Linked DNA regions of Homo sapiens: regions 2 and 3 are each linked to region 1. The links come from fine-mapping of genetic effects on gene expression. Tissue or cell type: whole blood. Region 1 holds a variant in brackets; each other region holds the start of a gene. All regions are shown on one strand. Distances are from middle to middle.

Region 1 (8,110 bases):
AGATGAATGAAGTTAAATAACAACACTGAAAACTATCAAGTTTGTTATATTGTTATTAGGTTTGGCTTGTTTTCATAATTCTTATGGCATTACCAAATGTCTACTTTAGAATTTCCACTTATTTACTAATTGATATGATTGAAATTGGGAGATACTTGAGGGAAAGAATGGTCCTATTATCTCTGTATTCCTAGCACAGTACCTAGCACTTAATAAGAGTTCAATACATTTTATTGAATGAGCACATTTACAAAGTACAACTTGATAAGTGTTTTTTAAAAAATTCCCTATAAATGACATTATCTGGTTATAGACTTTTCTTTGGCAACACAAAGACAGGAATTTGTTATCTTTTAAGATAGCTCTTCTAAGGATGTGGTAATGATCCAGTGACCGAAATCAGGATTTAGATACTCTTCTCTGCCCTTGTTTGGGCCAGGCAACTGGAGGTAACTGGGGTGTGACTCTACTCCTAGAATGTTGAATGCATCCTGGCTCTTGATCTGGTCGTTGCTACCACAGAGCCCTGGATTGTGTGTAGAAGGCTAAACGTCCTCTGCACCTTCACTCCCCACTCCAGTTTCTACCCTATCAATGACTCAGGGTTGGAAAGAGGGGAGGCTTAGCCCTGGGATAACCTTATTAGAATCTTGCCACTAACATGCTAATATGGTTCTGTTCTTTTCGTTTTATTTAACTCCATGTGTCTCGCTGTTAAAAAAAAATTATACTGGCTAATACTAAGGATGACAATAGCTACATTTATTTAACATTTCTATATGCTAAGCACTCTGCTAATAGCAGAGTATATGAGTTAACTCATTTAATCTTTAAAATGACCCTATAAGACAGGCAATATTATTCCCATTTTGTAGTTGAGGAAATTGAGAATTAGAGAAAAGTCAGAGACTTGAACAAGGTATTACTTTTCTAGGTGACCAATCACCTCAGGTTGCCCAGGACCAAAGGATTCTGTAGGATGTAGGACTTTCAGTGCTTAAACTGGGAGTATCCTGGACAAAGTAGGATGAGTTAGTCATCCTATAAGTAGCTGAAGAAGAATTCAAGACTACGTCATTGAATTCTAAAGCAGTTGCTCTTAATCATTATGTTATACTGCTTGATTTTTAAAAAAGTGTTCATTACTAAAAAGAATGAAAGTTCTCTCTAGGGCATCTAGTAAATGTTAACTGAAAAGTATGATAGAAAGTCTTTTACATGAGGTCATGTTATTCTGCATTGCAATTTCTGTTAGGGTACTTTTCAAGATACTATTAGCATATGCACTTTGAGAGAGATGCTTTTTGGTTTGGCACCTGAATAAAGTATCAATGCATAGCAAGCATTTCTGAGGCTTAAAGTGCTAGTTACACAATATGAATATAAAAACATTTACCACTAAGCCTCATAATAAATGACATATATTTTTCATGGATACTTTCCCCAGCAATGAGTTGTTTTGCCTCTAGAATTCCAGAATAAATCCTGAGAACTATGTTGGAAACCCTGAAGGAGCAAACGCTGCTCCTTGTAAAACCAGACCCACAGCAGAAGAATCTGAGAAAGTAGAAAACTGAAATAGTCTTATAAGACCTGCCATGCAGATTTTGTTTTGCATTAAGAGTAAACTGAAACAGAATTAAGATAAAAAGGGTTATTTCTCTTTGCCTTTATCACGTAACAGTCTACCCAATTCCTGACAACATCAACTCACCTTGATTGCAAGGTGAGTAAGGCAGTCTGCTGCCCTCCAGGAGTTTACAGTACATTGTCGACAGCTGTGATGAAAGACAATGAACAAAAGATACAGGAAGGAGAAAGTGCTGTGAGAATACAAGTGAGGGAGTGTCTTTTCTTACTTGTGGGACAAGGAAGAATTTCCCAGAGGAACTGGTGTTTTATGGATGGATAGAATGGCAAAAGGAGATAAGGAACCCTACCTTTCCCAGGCAGAGAACATGGAATGAGCAAAGCCATGGGAAGTCTGACTCTGAAGAAAACCAGGACTGTCACGTATAGTTGACACTACATATGGGAACATAATAAAATAAATAAACCCAAAGCCAAAAAGAACATAGAACTTAGGGGCCAGGCGTGGTGGCTCATGCCTGTAATCCCAGCACTTTGGGAGGCCGAGGTGGGCAGATGACCTGAAGCCAGGAGTTTGAGACCAGCCTGGTCAACATGGCGAAACCCCGTATCTACTAAAAATACAAAAATTAGCTGGGCATGGTGCTGCACGCCTGTAATCCCAGCTACTTGGGAGGCTGAAGCAGGAGAATCGCTTGAACCTGGGAGGTAGAGGTTGCAGTGAGCCGAGATTGCACCATTGCACTCCAGCCTGGGGAACAAGAGTGAAACTCTGCCTCAAAAAAAAAAAAAAAAAAAAAAAAAAGAACATAGAACTTAGGATTTCAAAGACTAATGCATGATTTCATTTTGTTTAGAAATTTGGACTTTGGAAATGCATCAGATTTGCAGTAAGGCCAGTTCAGTATTCTCAGAACTCTACTCATTTCTGTGGTCCTTTCCCAGAATTTATCATTAAGAACCTTAATGTTATGGTAAAGCTTTATATATGTATTTATGTGTATACGTATTTTTGCATTGTTTATTTTCAAAACCCAGAAATTCATTGGAATTAATATTGATCAAATTAATTACAGGTATTCAAAAATGAAAATAAACATTTAGATTTTTCAAACCAGGCTCATTTCCCTGAAGGCTTTACTAACCTTAAATACTTTATTTAAGAATTCTGTTGGCCGGGCGCAATGGCTCATGCCTGTAATCCCAGCACTTTGGGAGGCCGAGGCAGGTGGATCACGAGGTCAATACCAACCTAGCCAAGATGGTGAAACCCCATCTCTACTAAAAATACAAAAAAATTAGCCAGGCATGGTGGCCGGTGTCTGCAATCCCAGCTATAAAGGAGGCTGAGGCAGAGAATTGCTTGAACCCAAGAGGCAGAGTTGCAGTGAGCCGATATGGCGCCACTGCACTCCAGCCTGGGCGACAGAGTGAGACTCCGTCTCAAAAAAAAAAAAAAAATTCTGTAATGGCATGAGCTTTCCTTTCTATATCAAAGTCATCCCTCATCAACATGATCTGTATTTTGAACATGATCTGTATTACCTCTCTGTAGCCATGATGGACTTGTGAGGGCCCATTTATATTTTCACTCCCAGTAGATATTTTGATCTCATATTTGCAAAACAGTTAGATCAGACCAAGAAGCTACCTGTGGCCATGGAATCAAATGAAATCTCAGGCCTCAACAGGGGTCATCAGCTGACTTCTAACCCAATGGGTTGACTAAGAATAAGCAGAGTTGCTGGTAAACCCATAAGTCTGAACTGTGTGCAAGAAGTGCAGGTGTTGCTTTTTAAGGTGTCAACTTGGCTTCTTAACTTTTACAGAACCAAAACTCAAGTGCATCTGTGAGTACCACAGAGGTATGTGAATCATAAGCTTCCATAAAATGCCATGCCTAAATTAAGTCTTATCATCAAATATTATTTATTAAACTCCCACATCCCTCATACACATGGCAATGTGTGAGGCACATTAGCAACAGAAAACTGTATCTTCAGCCATGAAAATACTTCATAATAAATGCCAAATGGCTGCTGGAAGTCATAAAGATATTCTTTCACCGAGGCTGTATCCACCATAAATTTCAAATAAGCTGTGGAATGGAGTAACTCCTCCCATATGGTGAAATCCTCACAGAAGTGCTTCATGTTCAATTATCCTTATCAGTAAATAGAAGGCTTTTATGTCATCCCAATTATGCTTCCTGTGGATATGAGACAGCATTCCCAGAAGAATTACTCATGTATGGATTCATGCCATTTTGCATTGTGCTTTTAAGAGTTATTAGACAATTAGATACGCAGTAAGAAGAAATATCTGCATTTAAATTGTAAAATAACCATTTTATTTTAGACTCCACTATACTATTCATTATTTATTGCTAGTGCCTTTTGTAATTACTTCTGATAATATGTACACTAAAAAGGTTAATAAAAGCTGAACAAATAGAACATCTGAAGACAATAGCACTGAAATAACTTTTTATATCTGGAGACTGAGAATACATGCTACTGACTGAAAAATAAAGTTTTTAGTTAATCAACTGGTGTTCTGTCTACAGAATATTTTAAAAATCTGTTTGTTTTTATATAATGTAATTGGCTTTTAAAAAACAAAAGGATATTAATCAACATGTTGTTTATACATCTTTTAGAAAGATCCTGAAATGATTTTAAATTTGAATGTATTATGTTATCTCCCATAGATTTTTTTTCTACTTCTTAGTCACTTTTCTTTACAAATGTTCTAATTATATTCCAATTCCATTGTTCAATTCATGTGCAAGTACATTTAACTGCCTTTAGTGTGCTCAGCATGCTATTAGGTAATTTGAGTGCTACAGAGGAAGCAAAAGAAGGTCAAAACAACAGTTTACATCTTTCCGG[A/T]TTAAGTTACGTGACAGCCCAATTCCTTCCTCTTTCTCCCCAATATTAAAAAAAAAAAAACAGTGGAAATACAGTAAAAGGAAATTATTGCTCCTGGCTGATTCCTTAGCTAAAATGATGCTAAATCATAAAACTATGATGCATGTCTTTTAGGGTACTGCTTTTCTGCCTTAGGGAGAGCCTGGGCTGTAGAAAACACTCATTCCCCAAGATGAACGAGGCTCATAGTCTTTGTCCTTTATTGTTTAGCATCTAAGATTTTCAAACAAACACTTTAGGCAACCCATTAATAAAATCATGACTAGTCAAAAAAGGACTGGGTTTTTTTTTGGCCATTTTAGAGGTGGGAAATTTAGAGCTTAGAAAAAATTAAATGATGTAATACTTCTAAAATCCTGTGGCTGTGTCTCTAATCCCTGTGAATGAACTCCAGGTAAATGGCCCAGCCTGATAATAGCATCCTACTGTCCATCATTCTTTGCATTCTTTTAGATGAGGTTCAAATTATGCCTGGCTTATGCTGCATTCTGTCTCTAATGAACAAAGCTACAGTAAAACTGCGGAGCAATTAATTTCAGATGGTTTGCTATAAATTAATATAATGGCAAACTTGTTAATTAAGGATATAATTCCTTATCTTAAAGTAGTTCATTAAATATTTTATTTGAAGTAGCTTGTCATCTAAGAACCCCAAAGATAGTAAAATCTAAATCTATGAGACATATTTCAAAGGCTATTTGAACTCATTAGTTATGAAGTATTACCGTGCCCAGTTAGTTACATTAGAAAAAAAATTCTCATCATTTATTTCTTGTTATAGTGAAAATATTATCTTATTAAGTCTAATAAGGAAAAAACTGAAGATAGTACTATGTCATGTAATTCACTATTGTGGTTCCAAGAATAAATGAAGAAGTATTATATGTCTATTACATATCTTCTGATGACTTTAAAAAGTTAGTTTCTGATAAATAAATCAGCACAAAAAAGACAGAACTTATTTTTAACCACAGCAATATTTATTTACAGATGACAAATATTCTAATTTCCATTAAGCCTTTAAGTATTTTCTGAAAGCTCAATTTTCCATAATTGAGAATCAGATGCAGTCTTTCCATCAAGTTAAGAATCTCCTAAAGACAGTTTCCCCACCTGAGTTACCAACTCATAACTCTATATCTGAGATTTAATGGGGGAAAGAGCATGATGTTAAAAGTGTATGGGATACACTGCCTCTTTTCAATTATTCAAGAGCTGATTTATTTTGGCTTTTTTAAAGCTTACTGTCTTTCTTCTACCCTGGTTTCTATCATCTCATTAATTATCCTAAACAAGAGAAGATGAAAGAAAAAGACATGAGACAGAAAAAGAAATGAATATTCAACCCATCCTCTTCATTTTTGACCCTTTCAGAAAGGGAAACATAGTGACTAAAAGGAATATTTTAGATTATCTGGACATTTCATTCATATATGCCTTCTTTTCTCTCTTTCATGTGATTAGAGTTTATTATTTATCCATTATTGAAAAATTAGGATAAAACTGCATCCACGTTTGTGAAATAGAATGCCAGATTTACAAATTTGGGCAAGTATCCACATTATGGTAAAGAGTGTCTGTAGTGGACTGACAGTTCCACTTACATGAAAGAGATGCTTTAAGTAGCAGAATTAAAACACAGTGCAACTGCTGAGTTAATGATGGCACAGCTCTTTATTTTTCTATGGCAAAGAATGTGAATCTCTTACTAAACTGACTGTTTAACATGCTGAGTTTTTGTCCCCAAAACATTCTGCATTCCATTTGTAAGAACATGGACTCGACTCTGAATTAAAGTGTAAAAATGATTTATAATCTATACAACACTATAGATTATTATAATTTGGCTCTGAAGGGTTGGTTTCTTTCAACTTCTGCAGTCTCAGTTGTGTTGCCTGCTGTTCTAGCTGTGTCAACACGGGCAAAATTGAGAGCTGAAGTAATTAGGCAAATAATGCAGGCCAAAAATATGTCTGAAAGCTACTTGGCAATTTCACTCCACACTGATCAAAATCAGTTCAAAATAGTCCAGTTCTTTAATTTGCTTTCTCCTCCCTAAAAGCCTTAAATAAAAACACATGAAACCAATGAAATGTAAGTAATTTTCATTTGGAATCTCATATTTATATGTGTATTCTTAATGTTCCTTTCTAAATAAACCATTAACAGTGTGGATAAATCTAGTCCCAATAAGTCACCACTACTACAGTTGAGACTGAGGAGTGGTATGGTAAAATCAGCCAACAGCCAACTCACAACATCTCCCCAAGGAGACCACATGATCAGAACTCACTCTTCTGAACAATTTCTTGATGATTAAAGTACCGTCTTTTTCTCATTAAGTGAAGAGGCAAAAACATCCAAGTAACCACTTCTATAATGCTTGACTGAATTAACATTTCAGGGGAAAACTGTTGCAATAACAGACAGAAACCTCCTTTACATCTATGGCAGAGATGGCTTCCTAGCCACCTATTCATGCCACTCTGCCACATTATAAGGTATTACCGGGATGTAGTTGTCCAGCTAGGGAGTACATTTCCCAGCTCTCTTCTTAGATGGGGCCATGAAAACTGCTCTTGTAAAGGCGATAAGTTCCATCTCTAGACTGAGTTAAGAGGGGAGTATCTCAGACGTTTCTCATCTTCTGTCTACTGGCTGAATGTCACTGTCCCATAAAACCTTGAAAATCTCATATTAGAGATGGTACTAGAACCCAAACATGAAAGGACCCTGGGTCCCTGAATCACCTTTTGAGGCCAGCTGCCTGCTAATTAGGAACACAAATTCTAGACTTTATGTGAGAGTAAGAAATAAGCCTCTATTCTTTTTGAGGAATTATACATTTTTGACCTTTTTTTTTGTAGGAGCTAGAATTACTATAGCTTAGACAAATCCTATCCCAGTATTTTGAACACAATGCCTCTTTATTGGAAGCTTTCTTCACTGCATAATGGTGGTGATAGTTAATACTTATAAACTGCGTACCCTGTGTCATACACCGTCTAAATCCTCTACAAGTATCAGCTCACTCAATCCTTACAACAACCCCATGAGGCAGGTACTATTAATTATTCCCATTTAACAGATGAGAAAATTGAGGCATAGTGAGAGTAAGATCACATAGTAACAGAAATTGAACTGAAAAGCAAGATGATACATCTCCAGACCAAAAATAAAATACTCTGCACTCTGTATTTTATAAGTACATCTTCTATTCCATGTACATTTTAATACATTCTGCAGATAAGCAATAACAATTGTGGACTGGTCATCTGATTTGTTAAAAAGATCACTCTTTCATACAGCAGAAAGTTGTCTCTAATAACTGAAATAAAGAAGAGAAGCCATTTGAAGTCTAAACTGTTCCTCTCACAACCAGAAATAAGAAGTTTTAAATTAAGGGCAGCAGAGATCAATCCGTATAAATAATATCTAATAATTTAACAATGAAATAAAGATGATTCAATTAATGTCATATTATAATAAAGTTTAGGGCATTTCTAGCACTTTCCTAGTCATTTTCTATCACTTTTTACTCTGTAGTCAAAAGCCTATTGTATCTTTGAGAATAAATACCTTGTGCCAAC
Region 2 (8,110 bases), 100 kb after region 1:
CAATGTATAAAAATAAATAACAGAATATCTGTCCAGATGGCATGATTGGTGATGTTTTTCAGAAAAACAGTTATTAAAACATCAATATCTGTCTTATATTTCCATCTAAAAAAGAAACAAAATCTGTTTACAGTGCATCACACTCAAAGTCTAAGTTACTTCTTAGTTTGAGTTGAGTCCCAAAAAAGCACCACTCTTTTAAAAAAATAAAGCACTCTTCTGCCATGTGGGGACACAGTGAAAAGACAGCTGTGTGTGGACCAGGAAGCAGACCCTGACCAGACACCAAATCTACCTTGATCTTAGATTTCTCAGCTTCTAGCACTGTGAGAAAATAAATTTCTGTTTATAAGCCAAAAAAAAGTAAATTAAGAAATACAGTGTAAAGTAGTGTGCTTAATAGGCATCTCTGATACAATTGAGGGCTCACCTGCTAACTTTGCTTATAGCAATAGAACTGCCAAAATAACAGACCAGGAAGCTGGACAAGATTTGTTTGGAATTTTAAGATCTAGTTATTTATTTATACAGCATTTCTGGCGTTTGAGTCTCTTATAGCAGCACATCCGGTCTACTTAATAAGAAACACAGAGATTTAAGACATTAACCAATCAACAACTATATCAGAAATTCCTTCTAGCCACAATCATAAACTAAAAAATTTCTATATAAATATGCAAAATATGTGCTCCTTCCATCTTTCTTCATTCTTCTCCCATCCAAACGTAGTATCATGTTTGATTTTATTACTATATTTGTTGCCTAGGATAGAAAACCCCAAACACATTCAATAAAGCAAGGTATTTCTATAATAATAATACTAAAAATGCAAAATGCATTGTTATTTACTACAGCCACCTTTCTGTAACAATGCACTGTACATTTTGAAATTGCTAAAAGAGTAAATTTTAAACGCTTTTACCACAAAAAAAAAGTACATGAGATGATGGATTTGTTAGCTAATCATTTGACAATGCAGACATATGTCAAAACATCACACTGTACCCCACAAATATATATTCTAAGCATTTCCTATATAATAACTTTTGTGGATATGTTACTGAGCATGGGGCACTTAGCTTCCTTTTTCTAGTTCACATAATCTTAGTGGCACTAATAGGAGGTGGGTAATGTTTCATAAAGAAACAATTTACTTTGATTACAGTGGATAAAGATTCTGAACTATGAGCAGTCTATCCTCAACAAAGAATGGTAAAGACAAAAACTACCTTCCTTTGTCTATTATCATTTGCCATCTTCTTTTGCAATTATAAAGAGTTTTGTTTTCACTTGGATGCAGAAGTTGAAAGAGAGACTGAGCAGCCATTCTTAGATTTAAATCCTCCCCCACTCCTAGGGATATAATAATTAATATATAACCTTTGGCGTTTGGCGTTGGGGCTTTTGAGTACTTTTCTTTCTTTCTTTTTCTTTTTTCTTATATAGGGTCTCCACTTTTTCTCTTCCTTTCAGGATATTGACAATTTTTATTCAACGCATTCTCCAAACCTCTTTTCCCCAGCTCAGATCTTCTGTACCAGGGCAGTTAATTACGATTACCTTAGACATTCCACATAACCCTTAAGAGAAGCTTACGAAAAGGGGTTTCTTTAAATCAACCACCAAGAGCACACACACCAGTCCCACTCCCCTTCCCCTCCTCTGGGAGCACCCCCCACCCCAGGCCTTCTAGCTCTACATTGCCAAAACTACACAACTCCCACTCCACCATAGCAAAGCTTTCTCAGGAAAGAGCACCACACAGCATCCCCTTTCCTCTCCCTGGAAACAGCGTTAACCAGGCCGGCAGCCTCAAAGCGCGCTTCCTGGATCCTTTGACCAGGATGCGCCAGGGGCCTGGGCTCCCGCTGGACACTGGCGCGCTCAGACTTTGAATAGGGCGTCAGGCGAAGAATGGCCAAACCCAGGGCAATTTCCGGGGTGGGGGGGGGGGGGCGCTTAGACTGCTGGTAAACTGTACCACGTCCACTCACCACCACCCAAGCCCTCCAACCCACAGCCAGGCCCGCCGCACTTAGGACTTGAAGTTTCAATGCTCCCTGCAAGGTGGGGCCATCCGGGCAGCGGCGAAATACAGGTTTTGGGCGGGGGCAGCCACAGCACCCAACCCTCTTGCAAAGCTGTGCCTCCCGAATTAGGGACAAACTCCCTGGGATTTGTTTTCTGCGGGAGAAAAGGCGGAGGGATGTGGGGGGAGTAAGGTGTGGTGGCGATTCGTGGAGGGCAAGGGTAAGGGGCAGTTACAGCCACATCTCTGCCCTGGACAGAGCCGGGTCCAGGGGCCGCGGGCCTGCCCGCCGCTCGGTTGTCAGCATCTCCTGTAGCCGGCGCGCACACTGCGCGCAAACACGCCCCCCAAAATCCCCACAACCTGTCAAACGGGCCCTACAGCTCGGAGCCTCCTGGCAGGAGGGAGAAACTTGTACCCAGACTCGCCAGCAGCCAGAATGCTGCTGTTTGCCTATGAGAACAATTTTTAAAGCGGAAATAATCATGATAATGAAATAAAAGGATCAAAAGCATCTTGACTTTTTCTGAGCCTTTGGGAAAAATAAAATTGTTGTTTTCTACCAGCCCGCGAATATTCCCAGTCGCCCGTGGCGACGCGGGGGTGGGGTCGGCGCTCAAGGCAGAAAGCGCGAGGCAGGTGCCCAGGAGAGCCGCGCAGAAGGGGACTGACTGGGGGGCCCTGGTCCCCGACGCCATTTGAGGGGCAGCGGCGCCCGCCTTACCTGTGGATGCAGTTTCCATGGCAACGGGCGACTGCCGGGCGGGGCCCGAGCCGGCTTCCCGCGACGCCGCTTCCCGGGCCCTGGCGCCCAACCCCGGGCTGGGCTCCCCAGCCTGCGGCGCCGGCGTGGCCCCTTTCGGCGTCACCGCTTCGTTCTCCCCCTCCCCCCGGTGCCTGAGCCACTGGGACCCGGGGCCGGCCAGCGGCAGCAGCTCGTCCTGCGGATCCCCCGGCGCGGCCATGGCTGGCGGTCCCCCGGCGCGGCGACGGCGGCTTGGCTGGGCAGAGGCTCGGTGGCTGCGCGGGCGCTCCCTGCTGCTGTCCCCGGAGGGACTCGGCGCTCAGGGAAGCTGCGGTGTCTCAGCGTCGCCGCCGCCTCTGCTGCAACTCCGCCGAGCCGCTGCCTGCCGCTCTTCCCGCTTCAGCTCCTCCTTCTCCCCCCTCCTCTTCCTCCGGCCCCGCCGCGGCCGCTGCCTGCGCTCCTCCTCCTACTCCACTCGCTGCTGCCGCCGCTGCTTCGCTATTCCCAATCCTGTTATTACGCAGGTGAAAATGGCCTGCTTGGTCCGGGTCCTCCTGGGCACGTCAGCCCCCAACCTGCAAATGGCAGGCCCCGGTTAGGGGATGTGCCAAATCCACTCGAATCTTCCTCTCGTTTGGGGAGGAAAAAAAAGGAAGAACCAGCAAGTAGCAGCAGCCACCAGCAGCGTCGCCTTCCCAACTGAGAAAGTTAAGCCCCGACTGGTGTCCTGGGTCCCGAGGCAAAGAGGGAAAGCTAGAGAACTCAGGGCCACAGTTCTGAGAGTGACCAGTATGAGTTGTGGAGGGGACACAGGTCTGAACGGGGAAGGGGTGGAGATGGGTTCTGATGGCAGATGGAGACCAGGGAAGCTGCAACCCCGCGGTTAAATCCTGCGTTTCCAGAATGGGCCTGAAAATAGTGGAGTAAAGAAATGAGTTATCAGGACAGCCTCCAAAAAAAGCTTAACAGATCTCACCCTGACCAGCCCTGAGGGCAAACAGGGTGTCAATAGGCAAGGACAAAAGCTGTACATTTGCTTTCAGAAACACTGAGCCAAGGCCATCCTAATCATAAGCTGTCTGTGCAGTCCGTTGTATTTCAGAATTTGGACATTCCATGAAGCTTGCATCTTTTTCTTTACAGTTCACTGTGATAAAATGGAAGATAGTCAGCAAATAAACCCAAACTCAGAGGAGGAAAGTGACTTGCCTTATCATATGTTGTGCCCATACGAAGACCCATCTTTTCAAATGTCTTGTGTTTTATTGGTTCCCAAGTTGTTTATATAATAAAATAATGTGCCTTTAAAAACTAAGATTCACCACAACACACAGGGTGAAGGAATAGGTTTTTCTGCTGTTTCTTCTCTAGGAAAGGTGGGCGCAGACGGTACCGCACACACTGTGAGACTGTGGGACTCTTGGCCACCATGCGCATCTTGAGGATTTCATACCTGTCCATTGGTATATTCAAAGGCCAACTTCAGGACCATTCAGGTGCTCCTCAATAATGCTAAAATGAAAAAGCCCAGAGTCTGCCTAATCTTTTGTTCTGCTAGTGCACTAATGTTCAAAAGATGACAATAAATTAGAGAAAAATCATTCACTAAACAATAAATATGGCCTCCTGAAGCCAGATATCCCTGGAAATCTGATGGTCACCAAAATTTTACATTTTTGACATACTCAAAATTATGTCTCATGATGGAAATATTCACTATCTAGATTGTGGTTATAGCTTCACAGGTGCAAACATATGTCAAAACTTATTGTTTACTGTAAATATGAACAATTTAATGTGTTGTCAGTTATAACTCAATAAATCTATAAAAATAATCTCATCCAAAAACAACAAAATAATTGGTTATCATGAATCATAATGATTTTTAAACATCTTTCCATGGGAAAACAAGAGTGTATTTAAAAAACCGTTAAGTTGAAAAGCTTATTCCACTGCTGTATTTCCATGGAGCTTAATCCTGTCTTGTAATTAGAGGGCACTTGTAAGTTTTTTCAAATCTATTACTTAGTATTCCCTAAAGCATCAGAAATACTAGATGGGAATTTCTCATGGTTTTATTACTGATAACAAGACAAGAACATAGACAATTCTAATGATATAACCTTAAAGTGGTTATTGATGAATACTAATATTTGAGAATTGCTATGCAAAGGAGTTACATACAAAATAATATGAAGTATATTCTTTTGTTTCTCTGAGAAACATGAATGAAAGTCATCATTAAAAAACTGGGAGACCTAAGCAAGCCTCTGTGTTTCCTTATGATTAATAGATAGGAAGTTTGGGGATATGATTCTAATTATTTGTCAATTTCTTTCATACTAATCAATACTCTCATTGAGAATGTGTGAAGGAAATAGCCAGTTAAATCTATTTAGAGTGTAGTTGTTAAAGGAAATTGAACATTATTGACAGTTCCATTTTGATAAAGTATTCTATTTTACACTGCTGAAAAGAGATGAGCACAAGATTTCAGTGTTAGCAATTTTCATTACTAACTTTCCTTATTAGACTCCACCTTTGGATGTATAAAAATTATCTATTTGGGGGAAGAAATTTTCAGGTTTATGCTATGACTTGAAATGATTCATGTTTATTAATATTATTTATTTTGCACCGCTCTGAACTGACAAAGCTTGACTAATTTGAAGATTTATGGGCAAAACACACAGTCGGCAATGGGATTCTGGGGCTTACATAGTTGCTCTAAGTTACGAATTACTCTAAAATGCTTTTCAGACACAGAGAAAATAGGATTGTCACTTTTAAAAGGTTCTTAGCAAGAAGAGTTGAGACAAAAGAACTGTCACGTTTTGTTTTCAGCTTTTGTTTTTTGGAAAAGAAGTTTTGTTCATCATTTGAAAAGAAGAAATGAGGAGCATTTATTTAGCACTAGCTTCTTAACTTAGTCCAAACCATATATCATGGGGAAACACGGTGTGGGGACATGCAGGAAGAGCGCCACAAGTAACAAGCTTTAACCAAGATGAAATTCTTTCCAGCCTCAATATTAAAGTTACCTAACATCTCTACAACCCAGGTTCCTCAACTGTAACCTGGAGATTTTTTTTAAAATTTTTGTGGGTGGGTACATAGTAGGTGTATATATTTATGGGGTATATGAGATATTTTAATACAGGCATACAATGAATAATAATCATATCATGGTAAATAAGGTATCCATCACCTCAAGCTTTTATCCTTTCTTTGTGTTACAAACAATCCGATTATAATCTTTTTGTTGTTTTGAAATATAAAATAAATTATTGTTGACTGTAGGTGCCCCATTGTGCCAGTGAATACTAGATCTTATTCACTCGTATCTAACTATATTTTTATATCTACCATTAACTGTCCCACCTCCATGCCCCTCAGGCCCCTGCCAGCCTCCCAGCACTACACTTCTTGGCCTCTGGGAAACCGTTCTACTCTCTATCTCCATGAATTCAACTGTTTTAATTTTAATTTACCACACATAAGTGAGAACATAAGAAGTTTGTCTTTCTGTGCTTGGCTTATATCACTTAACAGATGTCCTCCAGTTCCATCCATGTTGTGCAAATGACAGGATCTCATTCTTTTTTATGACTGAATAATAGTCCATTGTGTATATGTACCACATTTTCTTTATCCATTTGTCTCTTGATGAACACATGGGTTGCTTCCAAATTTTGGCTAGTGTGAATAATATAGTGCTGTGATAAACGTTGGAGTGCAGATATCTCTTCAATATACTTTTGCTTTCTTTTGGGTATATACCCAACAAACAAACAAAAACAAGAAAACATTGAAACACTGGGGAAACTCTCCAGGATATTGGTTTGGGCAAGCATTTCTAGAGTAATGCCCCATAAGCACAGGCAACCAAAGCAAAAATGGACAAATGGGATCACATCAAGTTAAAAATCTTCTGCACAGCAAAAGAAACAACTAAGTGAAGAGACAACCCACAGAATAAGAGAATAAAATTGCAAATTATCCATCTGACAAGGGATTAATAACCATAATATATAAAAAACTGGGATTGCTGGATCATATGGTAGCTCTAGTTTTTTTAATTGGAGTCAGATGACATCTCATTGTAGTTCTGATTTGCATTTCTCTAATGATCAATGATATTGAGCACCTTTTCATATGTCTGTTTGCTATTTATTTGTATGTCTTCTTTTGAGTAATGTCTATTTAGATATTTTGCCCATTTTTAATTGGATCATTATATTTTTTCTTAATAGAGCTATTTGAGCTCGTTATATATTATGGTTATTAATCCCTTGTCAGATGGATAATTTGCAATTTTTTTCTCTTATTCTGTGGGTTGTCTCTTCACTTAGTTGTTTCTTTTGCTGTGCAGAAGATTTTTAACTTGATGTGATCCCATTTGTCCATTTTTGCTTTGGTTGCCTGTGCTTATGGGGTATTACTCTAGAAATCTTTGCCCAGACCAATATCCTTGAGACTTTCCCCAATGTTTCAATGTTTTCTTGTTTTTGTTTGTTTGTTTGTTTGAGACTGAGTCTTGGTCTGTCACCCAGGGTGGAGTGCAGTGGCGTGATCTTGGCTCACTGCAACCTCCACCTCCCAGGCTCAAGCAAATCTCTTACCTCTGCCTCTCGAGTAGCTGGGATTACAGGTGCCTGCCACCATGCCTGGCTAATTTTTGTGTTTTTAGTAGAGACGAGGTTTCACTATGTTGGCCAGGCTGGTCTTGAACTCCTGACCTCAAGTGATCCGCCCATCTCCGCCTCCCAAAGTGCTGGGATTACAGGTATGAGCCACCACATCTATTTGGCCCCCAGTGTTTTCTTTTAATGGTTTCCTAGCTTGAGGTCTTCAGTATAAGTCTTTCATCTATTTTGATTTGATTTTTGTATACAACAAGAGTTAGGGGTCTAGTTTCATTCTTTTGCATATGAATGTAATGTTGTCCCAGAACTATTTTTATTAAAGAGACTGTCCTTTCCCCAGTGTGTGTTCTTGGCACCTTTTTCAAAAATGAATTCACTGCAGATTAATGGATTTGTTTCTGGCTTCTCTACTCTGTTCCATTGGTCTATTTTTTTTTATGCCAGTACCATGCTGGCATGGTTTTGGTTACTATAGCTCTGTAGTACAATTCGAAGTAGGTAATGTGATTCTTCCAGTTTTGTTCTTTTTGCTCAGGGTGGCTTTTGCTATTCTGGGTCTTTTATGGTTCCACATAAATTTTAGGATTATTTTTCCTATTTCTGTGATGAGTATCATTGGTATTTTGATAGATATTTGATTGAATCTATAGATTGCTTTTGGTAGTAGGGATGTTTTAACAATACTGACTC
Region 3 (8,110 bases), 390 kb after region 1:
TTGTGACCTAGACAGACATTTAAATTGTGTTGCAATTCTGCTTTCTTGTTTTACAAAAAGCTGTTTCAGGAAGAAAAGAAAAGAAATGAAACCTGTCTTCTAAATGACAATCCCTCACAGCTGTTAGGGAAGACAGCCATTATGTCTTCCCTAAGTCCTTTCATCTCTTACCTTCTCTAAGGCTAAATAAACCTATCCAATTTCTGCCACCTTCCCTCACATGACATGGTATCAGGTTTCCTCACTCTTCTGCTCACACCCACCTGCACCAATTCTAGTTGGTTAATGTTCCTCTTTATTAAAGGGAGCTGGCTAGGGCAGGACACAGGATTCGGTAGGGTCTGGACAGTGCAGAGCAGGATGAGATGTCAAAAATCACTTCCCTTGTCCCCCAGAAGGTAGGGTCTATGAGGGCCTGGACTGTGGCTGATTCAGTCACTGCAGTGTCCCCAGTGCCCCAGCACAGAGGCCGGCACATACAAGCAGCTAGTCAGGAGACATCTGTTGTTTGCAGTTGTTGCTTCAGACACTGAGGTCTACAAATGCAACCCAAGGTTGCCTGATCTTTTCTGGCAGCCACTTCACAGTTGACTCCTATTGAGGTTACTGTTAACAAAAACCTGAGTTTTGCTCACATGTGCTGCTGTTGAAATTTTTCCTCCTCTAGACTTGTGCCATGGATTTTTCTGGACCATTTTAATGTCTAAAATTAGTCACCCTTAAATTTCACCATATGTGGCTGGGCTTGGCAGTTCACATCTGTTATCCTAGCACTTTGAGAGGCCAAGGTGGAAGGATCACTTGAGGCCAGGAGTTCAAGACCAGCCTGGAACATAGTGAGAGCCTGTTTCTACAAAAAGTTTAAAAATATCCAGGTGTGGTGGTTTGCACCTGTAGTCCTAGCTACTGGGGAGGCTGAGGTGGGAGGATTGCCTGAGCCCAGGAGTTCGAGGCTGCAGTGAGCTATGATCATGCCACTGCACTCCAGGCTGGGTGACAAAGCAAGACCTTGTCTCTCTATTAAAAAAAAAAAAAAATCACCATGTGAGATATATGCTTGGAAATGCACAGAATTTCTCTAGACGGATACAGAGGAGGCAGGAAATGGTGGCTGCCTCGAGAGAAGCACACTAGGTAGCTAGGGCACAAGGGTCAGAGAAAGCTCTTTACTTTTTACTATATATCTTTTTGTATTTTTACTTTTGTATTATGTGAGTGTGCTATTTTTTTAAGTGACAAAAAATAATAAACCTACAGAGAAGTCAAGAAGGATTTTTTTTTCTTTTTTCATCTTGATAGAGTCTGCCCATCTCTCCAGTCTGAGCTGTTTTGGGAATCTGAGTCTATTTCAATTTTCCTTTAATCTTTTCTTCTTTCTCACTCCCTACCTCCACCAGGAGTCTTTTTAGACTTTTTTTTCCCCTAAAACTCTCCTGTGAAATGTTAATTCCACAGATATACTGTATATCATTTATGTACTGTACATATATCTGTGCTTTATACATAAAAGGAGTTCTATAAAGTTTACTCCTGCCAGGCGCAGTGGCTAATGCCTGTAATCCCAACACTTTGGGAGGCAGAGCGGGGTGGATCACCTGAGGTCAGGGGTTTGAGACTAGCCTGGCCAACATGGCGAAACCCCAGGTCTACTAAAAATACAAAACTTACCCATGCGTGGTGGCACGCACCTGTAATCCCAGCTACTAGGGAGGCTGAAGCAGGAGAATCACTTGAACCCAGGAGATAGAGGTTGCAGTGAGCCAAGATCATACCACTGCACTCCAGCCTGGCCAACAGAGCGAGACTCTGTCTCAAAAAAAAAAAGAAAAAGAAAAAAAGCTTACTCCTTAGTTAATAAGCATATGACTAAATAAGCATATGACTAAATTTTAAAATTAAGTTAAATGTTAAATTAAAATTTAAAAGTTATTAACTTCTAACTTTATAACTGTATTTGCTGAAAAACATTTTTATGGTTTTTGAGACAGTGTCTCACTATGCTGCCCAGGCTGGTCTTGAACTCCTGGGCTCAAATGACCCTCCTACCTTAGCCTCCAGAGTAGTTGGGATTGCAGGTACATGCCACCACGCCAGATTTTTGCTGAATAACTTTTATGTAACTTACTTAGATAAATAGCAATTTATCAAACTACATGTGCAAATTTGCAAATTATATAACTACATAATGATAACAATGTAATTAAATTTAAAATCCTTCAAACTGTTCTTTTCCGACAAAACACAACTGAAAATATTAAATGAATTTCTTAAAATTTTCAATGATCTTAACTTTTAACTTTTCCTTAATATGAGAAAATAACTTTTAACTTAGTAGCTTAGAGATATTCATTCAGATGTTGTCAATAATTTTGCTTTTTAGCACTTGACATAATTTGATGGGTTGAATATTTTTTGTAGGATTAAATAATAAAATATAATCTATTTTCGTTTAATTCTCCAAGTCCAAGTGAACACAAAAGCACTAAAGATCAAACACAAACAACGTCTGCAAGGCAGCCAATGGCAGCCAATAGGCACACATATTCCCCCGCTGAGGTGGAACAATCGATCAAGAGAAAGCCCTTGGTTAATGAAGTTGTGCAGTATTTGGGATTCCTGCTTTAAAAGGAGAAAGCCCAATCACTTGCCATAGTTTTGTAGCACTGCTGTGGCGTCCATGTTGTGTATTTTTCGTGAACTCAATGTCAGTGCTGCACATGCTATACCCAAGAAAACCCAACCAGAAAAATGAAATACTAAGGAATAATATTTTCTCGGGTGGGGTTAAGCTTTGGAGGGGCACAAACCACTGTATTACCAGATTTTTTTTTTTTTTTTTTTTTGTCCACAGGAACCAATTCTCACCTTGGGATCAATATCACCCCCCTCAACGCCCAACCCATAACGCCCCCCCCAAACATAGTCTATCTTTCGAGCTACTATCTCTTCCAAGCAAACTTTGTAACATGCTTTGAGTATTTTTATACCAGAAACTTGGTCCAGGGAAACCCCATTTCCCCAAGTCCTTAAGGATCCAAAGCCTAGCTTTCGGTAGGTCATTTAATTTCTCTGAACATCAGTTTCCCTATCTGGAAAATAAGATTAATAATGCCTACCTTGTAAGAGTTGTTGTAAAAGTTAAATGTTATGTGTGTAAAGCGCTGAGCCAACATACAGCAAATGTACACGATGTCAAATATTAAGCAAGACACAGATAAAGTGAGATAGGCAGTATGCCAATAATGATCTCGCTCCAGCAAACTGCCATTTTTAGTTCTTTCTAGTGTTTGACTAGAATGAGTAAGTAGGTGAAGGACTTCGGATTATCTCAGATTTTATTTCAAAACTGCAGGAGTGGGAAGTGGAGGACAGACTACTTCAGGTAGTAGAACGACCGGGCTTCCGGTACTTACAAAGGAGTTTCCCTTACAAACGCAGGGGGACGCTCACTGTTTCTCAAAGTATCGTCCTCTGAGACAACACCAGAATCCCTTGAGTCCTGCGTAAGATGTCAGAGTCCTCAGGAGCACCGCCGACTCCAGTGCTCTCTTAACAGTTTGGCACTCCCTGGAGAGGTTTCCTAGCCTGAATGGCAAGTCCATGCCATCTTCCGACCAGTACAGAAGACAAAGGGGCTTTTTAGCCCTCGCCTCTTCCTCCCCAACCCGCAGCCCCTGCGTAAGGGGCAGCCGGGCCTTCGGGAAGCTCCACGCAACCCACAAAGGACCCGGGATCACTGCAGAACCCCCGGAGACCCGGACACGCCTCGGCAGCTCCGAGCCCGGCCTCCCACTCGGGAGAGGCTTTGGCCGGTCCTCACCTGGGCGTCGTCCCTGCCACTCGGCCCATAGTAGCGTCAGGTCGCCGTCAGCCCTCAGGAAGCGCAGCAGCTGCACCAAGAGCAGGAGCAGCGCGCACAGCACCAGCAGCCACAGCAGCAGCTCCCAGTTCATTGCGGCCGCGCACGCCCAGCTCGGGGGGAAGAAGACGGCCCGCACCAGAGTCGCGTCGCTGCCCTGCGGGATCGCAGCGCCACCCCTTCGGCCAGCCCAGAGCCGCACTGCCCCGGCTCCGCCCAGGGAGCAGGCCGGGAGGAGGAGCGGCTCGGGCGCGCCGGGCTCAGCACTCGCGGCCCCACTCGCGGTCCTTGGGCGGCCCGCGCCCTCATGCGGCACACCCGGCGGGGCCGGCAGATTGCTTGAATTCAAGTGTCCGAGACCAGCCTGGGCAACATGAGGAAACCCTGTGTCTACCAAAAATAAATAAATAAAATTCCAGTATTTTTAAAGAAGCTGATTCAAACATAAGCTACATATTATACTACGTTATTTCCTCTCTGTACAGGGACACTATCAACGGCCAGGAGACAGATAGAATCATTCTTGCTTGGCCCCTCTTCTCCATTCCTATTCAGAAAGAACATCCCCTTTTCAAGCTTCAGTATCTTTTCATGAGGTCGAGAAAGTGCTGAAGAAAGACTGTGGCTATCACTCAAGACCCCACAAGCCAAGGCAATGGTCCCTCCATGGGGACAAGGTCCTTTTACAATTAGAGAAAAAAAGACTGAAGCCATGTGCTGTGTTGGCACCTTACAACCTGATTCTGACCACACACAAATTTACTCTGGTGTCTGTTTGGCAACCAAAGCCTAGGTTGGTACCAAATCCTCCCCTTACCCAAGCCATTATTCACATCCTAATGTAAACAGCAAATAAAAACAGAGAATGTAATGAAAACACCAAGGTCTTGCCTACTCTAATACACAAAAGAGTAAAATACTGTTTTTGATTAATTTCCGTTTGAAATGACCTTCAAAACATTTAATTGCTTCCCACTAAATACCTACATGTATTTGAGGCATCAATAGTAGCATCTTTCTTGTTTTCAAGCATTTGAAAGCAAGAGGGTTTTCCATTCACAAGCCTCAGAGGGACCCAGTTAGAGTGCATAGAAACTAGGCCATGTATGAGAACGACCTGTGGCCAAATGGAGAAAGTTCTGGGCGTTGATGCAGTAGAACTTTCATCCTCTTCATTTCCTAGAGTACTTTGTGTGCTCTGATGTCAAAGGCTCTTCCTTGGCTGAAACTAAATATGACTTTAAAACAGTCATGGAAATAAAAGAAGCAGTGACTTCCCTCCCCAGTGTTGTTTTCTTTTTCTAGTCTTGCCTGCCAAACTTTTGTTTTTCTTTAAATGTTTTGAAGAATGTTACTTGCAGTAATCAAATTTCCTTAAATAGCTCTTCCTTCTCTTTTTAAATCCTATTATAAACCCCCTACCTGCCTCCCCACCCTCATCCTTCTCTAAAAAGCTTTTTGGGGTTATCTGGACTCAGAGTCATCTTTCCCTAATCTCACCTCTTTTCACAATTACTTCTGAACTATATCTGAAATTGTTTTTTAATTATTTTCAGGGTTAATATAGTATTGTTCCAATGGAACTTTAGAATCCTTGAAATAAAGTAGCAAATCTGATGCTTCTTTTGAAGAGTCTGGAATACATAGCTTAGTGTTGACATGAGAAGCAATAAGCCCACGTTGATTGAATTCTCCTTTCCTTGAAATTTAAACCTCCTTGATAGAGAGTAGAAGGATAGTTACCAGAGGCTGAGAAGAGTAGTGGGAGGGTTGGGGGGGACGTGGAGATGGTTAACGGATACAAAAAATAGAAAGAATGAATAAGACCTAGTATTTGATAGTGCAATGGGGTGCCTATAGTCAATAATAATTTAGTTGTATGTTTTAAAACAACCAGAAGAGTATAATTGGATTGTTTGTAACATAAAGGATAAATGCTTGAGGGGGTGGATACCCCATTTACCATGATGTGATTATTACACATTGTATGCCTGTATCAAAGTATCTCATGTACTCCATAAATATATACACCTACTGTGTACCCACAAAAATTAAAAATTAAAATTCAATTTTTTAAAACCTCCTTGAAGTTCGGAAGTTAATGTTAAAATGAGAGTTGCTAGCATTTAATAAATCAATCTTCTCTAAGTATTATTAAAATGCTTTGAATAAAGTCCGAAAGTCTTTTCTATAACTGGTAACCTTCATTTTTAATTCCAGATGTAATAGAATGGTACCCTGCCTTCCCTCCTTTTAGTAATGGTCACTTTTGATGGTCTGGGGTCAGGCCCATTCATGGCAGCTAAGGCCCATTCATGGCAGCTAAGGCCCATTCAGGTCAGCTAAGATGAAGGCAGTTGTGCGTAAGCAATTGCCATCTTCCATAACAAAAGCATTATACAAAAATAACTTTAAAAATCCAGATCCTCCAAGATCGGCAGTCCCTAGGCGGGGGAAAAAAAGAGTGAGTGGAAACTGTGAGTGGAAACAGGGACTGAGGAATCTAGGGAGGGAATATTCTTCCTCAAGAACAATAAGGGGTTTGTGGTTTTTGATTGAGGATGTTTTCACATCCCTTAGATGCTTTTGGAAATGTGTTGGATGAACAGTGGCCATAGTGCCAGCTAGCCAGGGTGTCATCAGAGTGCTAACGATCTGGGCACTATGTAAAGACATACCCAACAAAGAATTGCCCTGCCCCAAAAGCTCACAGCACCCTTACTCAGAAATCCTGCAACCTGGCCACGGTGGAGAGGAGCTCTGCAATCTATTAGCAGCCTCCCTCCACAAGCTCTGGCTTACACCTGCCTGGCTGTACCCCAGCTACAAGCGTTCAGGTCATGGTCTAGTTTTCTGATATTCTTCAGGCAGACAAGGTCTTACCTAGAGTCTTATTTATAAGAAAATATAACTTACTTTCTTACCTTTAGTAATCTCATGGGATCCCTCAATAGGAATATCTCACTGCACTGTTCACCACATGCAGTTCCCCATATCAGTGCATTGATATTTTGTTTAGATTAGCCAATTTCCACAGTATCTTGGGTCTCTTAAACATAAGCAGTTTATAGCTCTCATTCTCTCTCCCTTAAATGCTCTGTTTCAAACTTCCCTTTATATATCTTGTCCATGATTTAGTAGTGGTGGTTGTTATTCTAATCTAGAACTTCAAACACTCATGCACACATGAGTACATGCAAAGCTGGTGAAATTTGAACGAGGTCTGTGGATTTTGCCAATACCAATTCCCTGGTTCTGTTATTGTTCTAAAATTATGTAAAATTTACTAGTGGGGAGAACGGGGTACAGAGTACACGTCTGTTCCATCTTTGCAACTTCCTGTGAATCTATAATCATTTTAAAGTAAAAAGTTAAAAAAATTAGGTTAAATTTCTTAAAATATGCAAATATTTTCTTAAAATTCTAAAACTGATCAATGCTTTTTCCTCTCCTTCTCTTTTTTCTCCCCTCTCCAGCCAGGACCAGCCTTGGAGATAAGCAGAGTGAACAGAAATTTATGGTCTCAGATTTAAGAAAAACAAAATTCTTTCTTGCTTCTTAAATCATACTCCATCCCATTGGCTTGCAAACATGCTGACACTCCTCATAATTTCACTCTTCATAAACCAAAGCATAAGGTCAGAGGAGAACTTGACATATTAGAACACTTAGGCATTGAAAGTGGTTAGTCTAACTAACCCATTGAAGTTTTGGAGAACCTGGGACTCAAATTTTGGAAGATGTGACAGATGATATGTTAACATACATTGCACCGAGGCTGAAGTGGGAGGATTGCTTGAGACTGCCTGGAAGGCAGAAGTTGCAGTGAGCCGAGACTGATGGTGTCACTGCACTCCAGCCTGGGCAACAGAGCAAGACCCTGTCTTAAAAAAACAAAACAAACAAACAAAAGAAACCAAAAAAAAAAAAAAAAAAAAAAAAAAAACCATTGCACCAAGTAACAGTCAACTTTTCAGCAGAGGTGAGTAGAGTTAATCAGTTAAGGCTTTCTGGAATACCAGCCCACCTCAAGGCCTTGTACATACTGTTCTCTCCACATAGAGGGATGGCCAGAAATCCCCCAGATGGATCCAACAATGCTCACCTCCTGTGTGCAAACCACCATGTATTTCCCTCCCAGGTTGTATCAGGGTTGATCACTGTAACCAGCAGAATGCTGCAGAAATGATGAGTGTGTGACTCCCAAGGATAGGTCACAGAAGCTATTGCAGCTTCTACCTCTTGCTCTCT

Evidence for each region. PIP is the estimated chance that this variant, and not a neighbour inherited with it, causes the effect.
Region 2: RTN1 starts here. The variant in region 1 is fine-mapped to the expression of RTN1 in whole blood (TOPMed, PIP above 0.99).
Region 3: it holds the start of DHRS7, and the variant in region 1 is fine-mapped to the expression of DHRS7 in whole blood (TOPMed, PIP above 0.99).

Annotation. Positions count from the first base shown.
Region 1 is chr14:59,768,010-59,776,119 of GRCh38, forward strand. All of the region lies in intron 1 of RTN1 (reticulon 1), which reads right to left. Among named protein-coding and RNA genes, the nearest start is that of RTN1, 99 kb to the right of the region's middle. The variant A/T (reference allele first, on the strand shown) is at 4,482.
Region 2 is chr14:59,867,637-59,875,746 of GRCh38, forward strand. RTN1 (reticulon 1) reads right to left here and starts at 3,140. Exons shown (of 9, transcript NM_021136.3): 1 at 2,754-3,140. The coding sequence starts at 2,994. RefSeq lists a silencer at 3,049-3,148.
Region 3 is chr14:60,161,357-60,169,466 of GRCh38, forward strand. DHRS7 (dehydrogenase/reductase 7) reads right to left here and starts at 4,042. Exons shown (of 7, transcript NM_016029.4): 1 at 3,821-4,042. The coding sequence starts at 3,953. It also overlaps the pseudogene SCOCP1. RefSeq lists enhancers at 3,506-3,565, 3,756-3,805 and a silencer at 4,006-4,275.